3 linked regions of the Homo sapiens genome follow. The protein of the gene in region 3 interacts with the protein of the main gene of each other region in a pairwise test. Each region holds a gene or a part of one and is shown on either strand. Other genes may lie near its edges. The genes, in order: SOCS6, RANBP3 and ZMIZ2.

Region 1 (2,577 bases), on a different chromosome or scaffold from region 3:
ACTGTGGTCCTTCTTTTCTGTGTCCCTGACACATCCCAGGGGGCCTGGCCACTGAGTAGGAGGGGTGTGGGTATACAGAAAGTAGTTGCGGTTTTCATGTTGTTATCTACACCTTAAAGGCAGAGATGTGCTGTGTACATGTTAGAAAGTTGTTGGTATTTCATGTCGTTTGTCCTTTTCTGAGCTGGTCTGCTTGCCTGGCTGAGTAAATCATAGCACTAATAAAACCAAAGTCCTTATCATTACATGGCCCCAACAGCCCCACAGAGAGACAACTGTCACTGCCTGTAGAGCTATGATGTGTGTCTGAGTGACTCAAGTACCAGACTGACTGGCAGTGTAGACGCCCAGATCTCTTTCACTTCTGGAAGTATAGTCATGTATAGTGTATAGAAAGTCACCATCCCAAAACCCATTTCTCCTGCTTACATAGCTTAGTGAAGTGAAACCTCAGTTATCTGAAATCTCCTGGTATCCTCAGTTTTCTGGTGTAGAATTAAGCCAGAAGGAAAATCTCCTTTGGAATTAGAAAAGCCAGAGACTTAGAAGCCCTCCATGCTAACTAAGGAAGACAGTCTCTCATGGGGATGCAGATCTAGGTTTGAATTTCAGCACTTCAATTTTATAGGGTAGATTAAAACAAAAAAAAAAACTTAAGGTTTTGTTCCTTTACGTATATAATAATGATGATGTTTCTCTCAGAGCTGGTGTGATAATGGAATGAGATAGCCGGGCGCGGTGGCTCGCGCCTGTAATCCCACCACTTTGCGGGGCTGAGGCGGGTGGAGCAGGAGGTCAGGAGTTCGAGACCAGCCTGGCCAACATAGTGAAACCCCGTCTCTACTAAAAATACAAAAATTAGCTGGGCATGGTGGCACACACCTGTAGTCCCAGCTACTCGGGAGGCTGAGACAGGAGAATTGCTTGAACCTGGGAGGTGGAGGTTGTGGTGAGCCGAGATTGTGCCACTGCACTCCAGCCTGGGCAACAGAGCGAGACTCCGTTTAAAAAAAAAAAAAAAGAAAGAAAATGGAATGAGATAATGCATGTTAGTGTATTAAGTGCCTGAAATATAACAAGTGCTAATACTTTAACACTAGTATTCTACTCCTTTATCTGACTGCTTTTGACTAGTTAGATTATGTTTTAAAGTAATAGTAATAATTCCTATTTAAAGTAATTATTACTATTAATTCTTTTCTGTGTCCCTGACACATCCCAGGGGGCCTGGCCACTGAGTAGGAGTCCGTTTTTCTTGTCAGTTTTTTTTGTTGTTGTTCTTTGGAGGGGAGTTCCCTCAATTTTTCTTTTATTGGATGTTTACTTTTTGGCTGTGGGAGTTTTGTTTTCTAACTGTTCTCCTCACCCCCTCTTTTATAATATATAATAATGGTAATAATTCCTATTTAAAGTAATTATTACTATTAATTTAAAACATAATCTGACTAGTCAAAAGTAGTATTCTGATTAATCAGCCACACCTGTGTTAGACTTGAATGTTTTTGTTAAGGAAGCCTAATGTGGGAAAAGTGTTTGAGACCAAAAGAGCAAGAGAAATGGAAATGAAAGCAGTAAGTGAATGGGCGCCTTCAGAAGGATTGCTAGTGCAAGCTGCTAGACTGGTAAGGATTACAGGTGGTCACAGTGTTAGCAGCAATTGCCTGACCTGGCTGTGGGGTCATTGCAGTTCATTGGTGGGAGACCGAGAACAAAAAAGATGCCGCACTTGCCTTCTCTGCAGAGCCTTCTGCTCTGATTATGTTTGTTCTGATACTGTTTTATCACTCCTAACAGCGAACACACTAAAATACTTTCTAAAATTGTTAAAAGGGCATCACACTTGGAGACTGGGGAGTGATGATTATCTTATTTTCCATAGCATCGGACTCTTGAGTATAGAGAAGAAAAGAAAGAAGACAGGATATATCTGAAGGCCTGGAAGGCAGGCAGTAATCTGAACATCAGTAAGTCCTAATGGTGTCATTATGCCATCCTGAAATTTTCCAGCAGATAAATTTGGTCATCTGGAGAGGCATCCATTTATATACAGCAGTTTGTGACAGTCTGAGATTATACTTAATATACACACTTGTGCTTAAAATACCTTTTTGAAGACAGGAATGTATGGCTCCTATTAGATAAGATTTCCATCAAAAACAATTTCAATAGTTCAGTGTTAATCTTTAGACAAGGTATTTTTACCCAGCGCTCTGGGTAGCTGATTATTTGGTGCTGTTTATGGTGGCACTTACAGTGATTTTTGTGGTACACATTGTTCTGACCATATCAATAATATGCTAGATGGTTGAAGCAGCTGGGTTAGCATGCTTTGAAAGTCAGATGAATTCTTACTGGTAGATTTTTACTGTATCTGTATGTTACTTGTTTAAAGTTTGTTGTGATGTGTATAATAATGGTGTTTGTTTTTAAAGCTTAATTTTGGTTTTCAGTAATGTATTACCATCCCTCAGACAATAGTCATTTTTGTTTGTTGACATTGCTTTTAAAGTTAAAAAAGAAAAGTGACATATTTAGGAAATAACATTATTGCCAAATATCACAGACTGGCAGAAAATG
Region 2 (3,651 bases), on a different chromosome or scaffold from region 3:
AGAGGATTCGCTTAAACTGATAAACGAATCCCGAGGCCTGTAACCAGTCTGAGACTCTGTGTGTGTGTGGGGCGGGAGGGGAAGCCTCTTCCCCACTTTCCCAAAGACGGTACCAGGAGTTCCCCCATGGGTCGCCCCCAACATCTAAGCCCTCCTTAGAGGAGATGCCTCATAGCTCACGTTCCCGATGAGCAGTGTGTGCCATGTTCATGGGCGGCTTGGAAAAGCTCGGACTCCTGCTGTAGGGCCAGAGAAGGATACACACAGCGAGCCTGGCGAATCTCAACAGTACTGGGTGTGGTCAGAGGGCAGCGTGGGTGTGGCCGCATGGCTCCACCCCAGACCCACATGGAGCAGTGGCTTTGGAGCCAGACGCAGGAGCTGGGAATGGCAGCCAGCACATCACAACTTCTGAGCTCAACCATTTGGGAACAAGCTGTGTGCACTGCTGAGAAGGGGCTGGAACCGGCAGGAAGACGGACTCCGTCCCCTGGGATGGGACACAGCAAGGCCTCTCCAGTGAGGAACAAGCTCTCGGTAGCGGGTGCTACCAGGTCAGCCTGTGCACTCACCATCGGGGACAATCAGAGACACTGGGAGATGGCGGGACGGGCTGGGTCACTTCTAAGTCCTTCTCCAACTCAGAACTGCACACCTGATCTGCTCAGGAGACCTCAGCAGTCAAAGCTTCCAAGCCGCAGAATGCGGTGGAAATGATCCCTATTTCCAATTCAGCAAACTCGTTTGAAAAAGGGCGTGAGGATGTTTTCAAATTTAATTGTGGACAGCCATTTTCACCCTTTGAGCCAGAACATCTACTGGGGATGGAGGGTATAAAACTGCAGGCCATGGACACAGAGCGGAAAATAAACACAAAGATCCAATCTGGCTTTTACACAGAAGATACCACATGGTGTTACCCTAATTCTGACTTCAAACCCATCTCTGCCAACTTCAAAGGAGGCTCTTCATCAAAGGCCCTTATTTCACAGTGGCTGTGAAACACAAAGCTTTTGGCCCATATAATCCAAACCATACCCCCGCTTAAATGGAACTATTTCTTTTTTTAAGGCAGGGTCTGGCTCTGTCGTCCAGGCTGGAATGCAGTGGTGTGACCTCGGCTCACAGCAGCCTCCCCTTCCCGGGCTCAAGCAATCCTCCAGCCTCAGCATCCTGAGTAGCTGGGACTACAGGTACATGCTACCATGCCTGGCTAATCTGTGTATTTTTTGTAGAGACAGAGTCTTGCTATGTTGCCCAGGGTGGTTTTGAACTCCTGGCCTCAAGCAATCCACCTGCCGCGGCCTCCCAAAGTGCTGAGATTGCAGGTGTGAGCTACCGTGTCCGGCCTAAACAAACTATTTCTGAGATGACTCCCAAAGAAAAATTTTCAACTGGAACCACACAGATAGGAGTCTCTGAGGGGTGGTTTGGGTGTGGACACAGAGAGGGGAGACATTCCTCATGTTAAACATTGCAAGACACCCATCAGTGACAGCCGTTCCTCGGGCCCTAGTGACTCCTCAGAGTGCAGTGGTTCAGGTCCTCCCTCAAGGATCACTCCCGTGAGACATGTGGCGGTCAGCCTTGGGTAACAGGCCCTTCCGGCAGAACTCTGGGCAACAGGTCCTTCCGGCAGAGCTTGCTTGGGAGACACTCTTCTTCTGCCTGACCAGCAAGACCACCCTTGGGAATCTAGATCTGGTTTGTCAGGTACTGTTATTTAGAGCCTACTGAGCAAATCCAGAGAGCCTTACAATAGGCCCACGTGGAAACTGCTTGGAACAGGTGACAGCGTGTGGACTCCACAGCATGCTGGGAAGGCTGCCCTCCCGCTCCCAAGGGGCCTAGCATGCAGCGCTTCCCTGCCTCAGGACCCACTGACCTCAAGTGCACACACCTCATCGGCAGCTTCGGAAGGACTTCTCCATGCAGCAGTGTCAGGGGATGCTGCGGGCACTGCCCCCGTGCAGTCTGCTGGGAGGCTGACCCCGTTGGTGCCACTGCTGGGGACTGTGGGAGGGAAGGAGAGTGGGGAATCACAGGTGCTTGGCGGCCCTCCCACCCCCACTCACATAGCTGAGGGGCTGGGCCACGTCTAGTCTAGGGCCCCTCCCATGGTAAAGCCCACAGCACATGTCTCCTTTTTAAGGAAGGACCTGGTATCTCTACAAAGAGCCAAAATTCTTGGATTTAAAAAAAAACAAGAGAAACAAACAAAAAAGAGAAACCTGCCGGGCACAGTGGCTCATGTCTGTGGTCCCAGTGCTTTGGGAGGCTGAAGCGGGGAGAATGCTTGGGGCCAGGAGTTTGAGACCAGCCTGGGCAACACAGCAAGTCCTCGTTTCTAAAATAAGATAAAACAAACTGGCTGGGTGTGGTGGTGCACACTTGTGGTCCCAGCTACTTGGGAGGCTGAGGTGGGAGGATCGCTTGAGCCCAGGAGTTCGAGGCTGCAGTGAGCTATGATTGCACCAGTGCACTCCAGTCTGGGTGACAGAGCAAGACCCCATCTCCAAAATAAATAAATAAATAAATAAATAAAATGACCTTTCAAGTTTTTAAAGATAACCTGTGAAAATTGAGGCTGAAATTCTATCTGCAAACACACAGGGATAAATCTCATTCCCAGGAGCCGGCCTGCTTTTATGAAGACAGTGAATGAACAAAGCAGGTTTCACCCACACAGTCACACTCAGCCGAGAGCTGTGAGGAAGCTGTGGAGCCGCCTCTCCCTTCTCCGTTGCCAGGGCTCAGGAGGCTTGGGGCTGGAGACGGCTGGGGGGTGATTTAAAGGATCATCTTCCCTGATCTCTCTGTATTTCTGGTGCATTCAGCAGTCACCTCTGTCGCAACACTGCTGTCCCGGGTGCGACTTCGGGAACGCTCTACCCTGCCGTCTGGGCCTGGGCGCCAGGGCTGCTGTTTCTTACCAGTCTGGGACAGCGCCTTTGGCTGCGGAGCTTGTAACACTGCCGGGCGAAGCACGCTCCGCTGCTGCTCCTTGGGCTTCTGGCTTGGCAGACCTAGGAACAGAAGGCGGCCTTCCCAGTGCCCGTGGACCCCTGCCTGCCCCCAGGCGCTTCAGAGACTGACCCCTGGCATCCCATTTCATGCCCCTTGCAGGCTAGACTTTGCAGGGAAGCACTTTTTTAAAAACTTGAGGTCTTTTTTTAACAGCTGGCCAGGAGATCTGGCTACTGTTATTTTTACATGTGATTACATGAAACTCCCAGTGACCGACGCCTGTGAATTAATCCAGTTAGCACAGTAACGTGGCGGGGCGCCGGCAGACTCAACAGTCAAGTGGAGACTGTGGGAGGAGAGCAGTGCATTCACAGGCAGCTACCTGGAGGCTCAGGACTCGGTGTGGGGTCACGTACAGGCACATTTTGCACCTGTTTTTCAAAACAGCCATGCTGAGGAAGTCCCTCTGCCAAAGGCAGATGGGACAAGGACCCTTGCATGTGCCCTGCCCTGTGCAGCATCCCCGGCAGCCTCACTAGCAGCCGGCTCACTAGCAGCGCGCCGCTGGAATGCAGCCACCCTGCTAACTGGGGCGAACACTGTGGTATGTGGGGGCCAGAACATGAAGGACAGACAGGCTGAACCAAGTGCGCTACTGCTGGGCATGGAGCCCGCCCGATGCAC
Region 3 (3,651 bases):
GATCAGCCGGGGACTCCGAGCTCCATGAGCTTTCTGCATATCCTGGTTTCTCTTACATAATTAATGTGAGCATCAAATCTAGTCAATTTACTCTAACTGGAAAACAGCTAGGGTATATTACTGGATCGCTTTCTTAAAGGGCAAGGATGACAGATTAAAATAGAAATACAAGGCAGTAACAAAGAGAAGCAACGCATTTTTCTGAAATAATAAAGCCCCCACGTCCTGCTCTCCACCCTGCAAGGGGGCACACATGCTACAGCAGGCGGTGGACAGCAAAACAGCAGACGGCGGCATGATCTGATGGTGCTGCAGGCCGGCCCGCCCATGTCCTGGCTCCGCTCCCACTGCGCCGCTGGGCCAGGCCCCGCCCACACCCCGCCCCACCCCACGGCACCGCTGGGCCAGGCCCCACCACACCCCGCCCCACGCCACAGCACCGCCCCCTCGGCGCAGGACACGCACGCAGCAGCAGGCGGTGACGGTGATCTGGATGGTGTTGCGGCCTGGCTGGCACACATGCTTCAGGTAGAGTGGCTTGTGCGAGGTCTTGTTGTCGCCACGCTCGATGGTGAGCGGCGTGGCATTGACGCTGACCTGCACCGAGGCTGGCCAGTTGGTGTTCATCTGCCGGTCCTCGTGGTGGTAGCACTTGAATTGCAGCTCCAGGTCAGGCCTGCTCAGGAAGATGGGTGGACACCCAGAAAACGGGCCCTGAGAGTGTGGGAGGAGGAACAGAGCCTCGTGGGGGTCAGGTGGGGGCCAGGCGGAGCTCACCTCATTATCAGGGTCTTGTAGACTGAGTCTCGCAGCTGGAAGACATGGTTGCTTACAGCCAGGTTGTGCTGCAGGCGGAAGGGCTCCAGGACCACCCCATCGCGCACAGGGAAGGTCAGCCGCAACTCGTCACAAGGCCCGCTTCCTGGGAGCAGAGGCCACTGGCTGTGAGCTGGGTTGCCCCAGCCAGAGCGTCTTGTGTCACTCAAGGAGGGCAGCGGCTCCCCAGCCACCTTCCCCGCAGGGACCTTGGTGAAGGGAGCCCCTCCTGTCAGGCACTGCTTGGCAGGCCTGAGTGGTGCCCTGGGGCTGGGGCCATGGGCAGCATCTCTCCTGAGGCCTGGGCATTCGGTCGTGATGTTCTGTCTTGCCTCCTGCCTCAGCAGTCCAGCCCAGTGTCCCCTAAACCATAATAGGGGAACATGTCCCCAGCCCAGACAAAAGGTGTTTCCAGTGCTTTCAGAGAGACTGGGAGGCCAAGGTGTGTGAGAGCCTCCTGCAATTGCCCTATAGCTCTGTTTAGAGTTCTACGATCCCAACTTCTGCTGCTGTGGTCTCCCTGGAATGGGCTTCCGGGGTTCATAAATCCCCTGAAATTATATACAACATTTTGTGCACAGGGGAGAGAAGAGCCACAGCCTCCTTTGCAAAGAAAGCCACAAACAGAACAAAAAGGTGAAGGCTTGGCACTAAGCGACTTGTCTTTAAGAAGATGGAATCCTTGGCCTTTTTTTTTTTTTTTTTTAAGACAGGGTCTTGCTTTGGGACCCAGGTTGAAGTGCAGTGGCAAGATCACACTCACGGTAACCTTGAACTCTTGTGCTCAGCCTCCGAAGGTGCTGGGATTACAAGTGTGAGCCACCACACCCAGCCCTTTTCTTAGGGATATGGCAGCCATCCCCTGTCCCCCAAGCTCCTACAGGACTCTCTGGAGTCCTGTGATTCCCCCATGCCCACCCTGGCCTTGTCACCCCGCTGTCCCAAGAGTGGACAGACTTACCAGAGGGCGATGAGTGCAAGGAGTTGAGGTTGGGCTTGAGATCAGGCAAGAAGGGAGACTTGACCTCTTGGTTTGGTGACATGTAAGGGACGCTGCTGCTTGGGGTCATGGGTGGCGTGGGGTTCCCTGGCAGTGGGGAACTGGGATAGCCCGGGATGGAACGGGTAGGCTGTAGGGTTGAGCACAAACAGTCAAGGCAGATTGCCAGGGTGGATGGGAGTGGAGTCTGTTCACGGCGCACCCACTGGGAACCATGATAACAGAGGTGGACAGGAGGCGGCCCCAGGGGTGCCTGCCCGGTCGCCCTCTCTCCATATGCCCACCCTGTGAGCCTCCCGGCCCATCCTCCCGGCCAGGCCCCCTACCCCACTCAGGCCAGGTTGGCTGTAGCTGACGCTGCCCCCGTTGAAGCTGGCGCCCTGCCCGTTGAACTGCTCTGTGGGCTGCGGGAGAGAAAACTGCATGCACCTGGGGCTCCAACCTGACCCCTGCCGGGCCCCCTGGACCTGACCCTAGAAGCCCACCATACACGGTCTTCTTTACACTCTCTTGTATTTTCCAAATAATCTACAAGTAACACTACTTAAAGCAATCATAGCCACAGAGGAAAATGATCAAACAGGTTGGAGGGGCTGAAAAGACAAAAGCACGCTAAGCCCTCCTCCTCTCCTCCCCCAAGCTGCACCACCCGGCGCACCCAGGCTCCCAGGGAGGTAGGCTCTGCCCATGCACCCAGAAAGGGTACATGGCCAGCAGCGAGGGCCTGTCCTCTCAATGGATTTCTCTGCAGCAAGTAGAAGGAATGACACTTTTCCATAAAGAACATTCAAATGTTTTGGGTACCCACCTGCTGCTCCCTGCACAGGATACCCCTGAGATATATGAATCTTGTAGAGGGTCCTTTCGGAACTGGATCCCAAACCCCAGGAGCTGCTCCTGCACTGGTCAGAATGCCCCCACCCCCCACCCCCCATCTCCTGTAGAGCTGTGGTCCATGAGCACACATGGACCTACACATCCTGCTGGCCCCTTTAGCCACCCTGTCGCTCTCGAGGACAGGACTGCCCCAAGGTCCCCTGTCCCACAGCACTCAGCACGGAGCCCGGCACAGGGCCTGGAGGAGCCTGCCCTACCTTATAATGCAGTCCCGTGGGGCCAGGCACGGACAGGGACTGGGTCATGCCCTGCTGCAGGGGCAGCCTGTGCCCAGGGTAGGAAGGGGAGGGGGCAGGGGGCTGCCCAGGGCTGGGCGCAAACTGGGCGGTGCTGGGTGCATACTGGCCTCCTTGCAGATACTGCTGCCCTGGATACACCTGAAAAAGAGGCAAAATGCCCGAGGGGAGAAAAAAGGCATCAGGGGAGCTGGTTCCAGAAGGAAGTAGAGTCTCATGTGTGGCAGGGTTCGGGGAATGGAGATTTCCTGGTTCCCTTGAAGATCCTGCTGTGACACTGTCAGGCACAGGCAGTTCTCACATGCAGAAGCCTGTTTTTTTTTTTTTTTTTTTTTTTAATTTGAGACAGTCTCACTCTGTTGCCCAGGCTGAAGTGCAGTGGTGCAATCTTGGCTCACTGCAGCCTCCACCTCCTGGGTTCAAGCAATTCTCCTGCCTCAGCCTCCCAAGTAGCTGGAATTACAGGTGCACACCACCACGCCCGGCTAATTTTTTTTTTTTTTTTTTTGAGATGGAGTCTTATTCTGTCACCCAGGCTGGAGTGCAGTGGCATGATCTCAGCTCACTGCAACCTCTGCCTGCTGGGTTCAAGCAATTCTCCTGCCTCAGCCTCCCAAGTAGCTGGGACTGCAGGCGCCCGCCACCACACCCGGCTAATGCTTTTTGTATTTTTATTAGAGATGGGGTTTCACCATGCTGGCC

What was found.
Region 1: the proteins of ZMIZ2 (region 3) and SOCS6 interact in a two-hybrid assay, tested with the Homo sapiens proteins (one large-scale study listed by BioGRID and IntAct).
Region 2: the proteins of ZMIZ2 (region 3) and RANBP3 interact in a two-hybrid assay, tested with the Homo sapiens proteins (one large-scale study listed by BioGRID).

Annotation. Positions count from the first base shown.
Region 1 is NC_000018.10:70,293,084-70,295,660, forward strand, and holds part of SOCS6 (suppressor of cytokine signaling 6), read left to right. Parts: exon of another isoform or gene 1-1,964; intron 1,965-1,995; exon of another isoform or gene 1,996-2,577. UniProt on the Homo sapiens protein: SOCS family proteins form part of a classical negative feedback system that regulates cytokine signal transduction.
Region 2 is NC_000019.10:5,929,519-5,933,169, forward strand, and holds part of RANBP3 (ran-binding protein 3), read right to left. Parts: intron 3,027-3,651; coding exon 2,934-3,026; intron 2,014-2,933; coding exon 1,886-2,013; intron 1-1,885. UniProt on the Homo sapiens protein: Acts as a cofactor for XPO1/CRM1-mediated nuclear export, perhaps as export complex scaffolding protein. Bound to XPO1/CRM1, stabilizes the XPO1/CRM1-cargo interaction. In the absence of Ran-bound GTP prevents binding of XPO1/CRM1 to the nuclear pore complex.
Region 3 is NC_000007.14:44,758,720-44,762,370, reverse strand, and holds part of ZMIZ2 (zinc finger MIZ domain-containing protein 2), read right to left. Parts: intron 3,091-3,651; coding exon 2,911-3,090; intron 2,808-2,910; exon of another isoform or gene 2,796-2,807; coding exon of another isoform or gene 2,625-2,795; intron 2,221-2,624; coding exon 2,143-2,220; intron 1,947-2,142; coding exon 1,778-1,946; intron 950-1,777; coding exon of another isoform or gene 923-949; coding exon 778-922; intron 677-777; coding exon 466-676; intron 1-465. UniProt on the Homo sapiens protein: Increases ligand-dependent transcriptional activity of AR and other nuclear hormone receptors.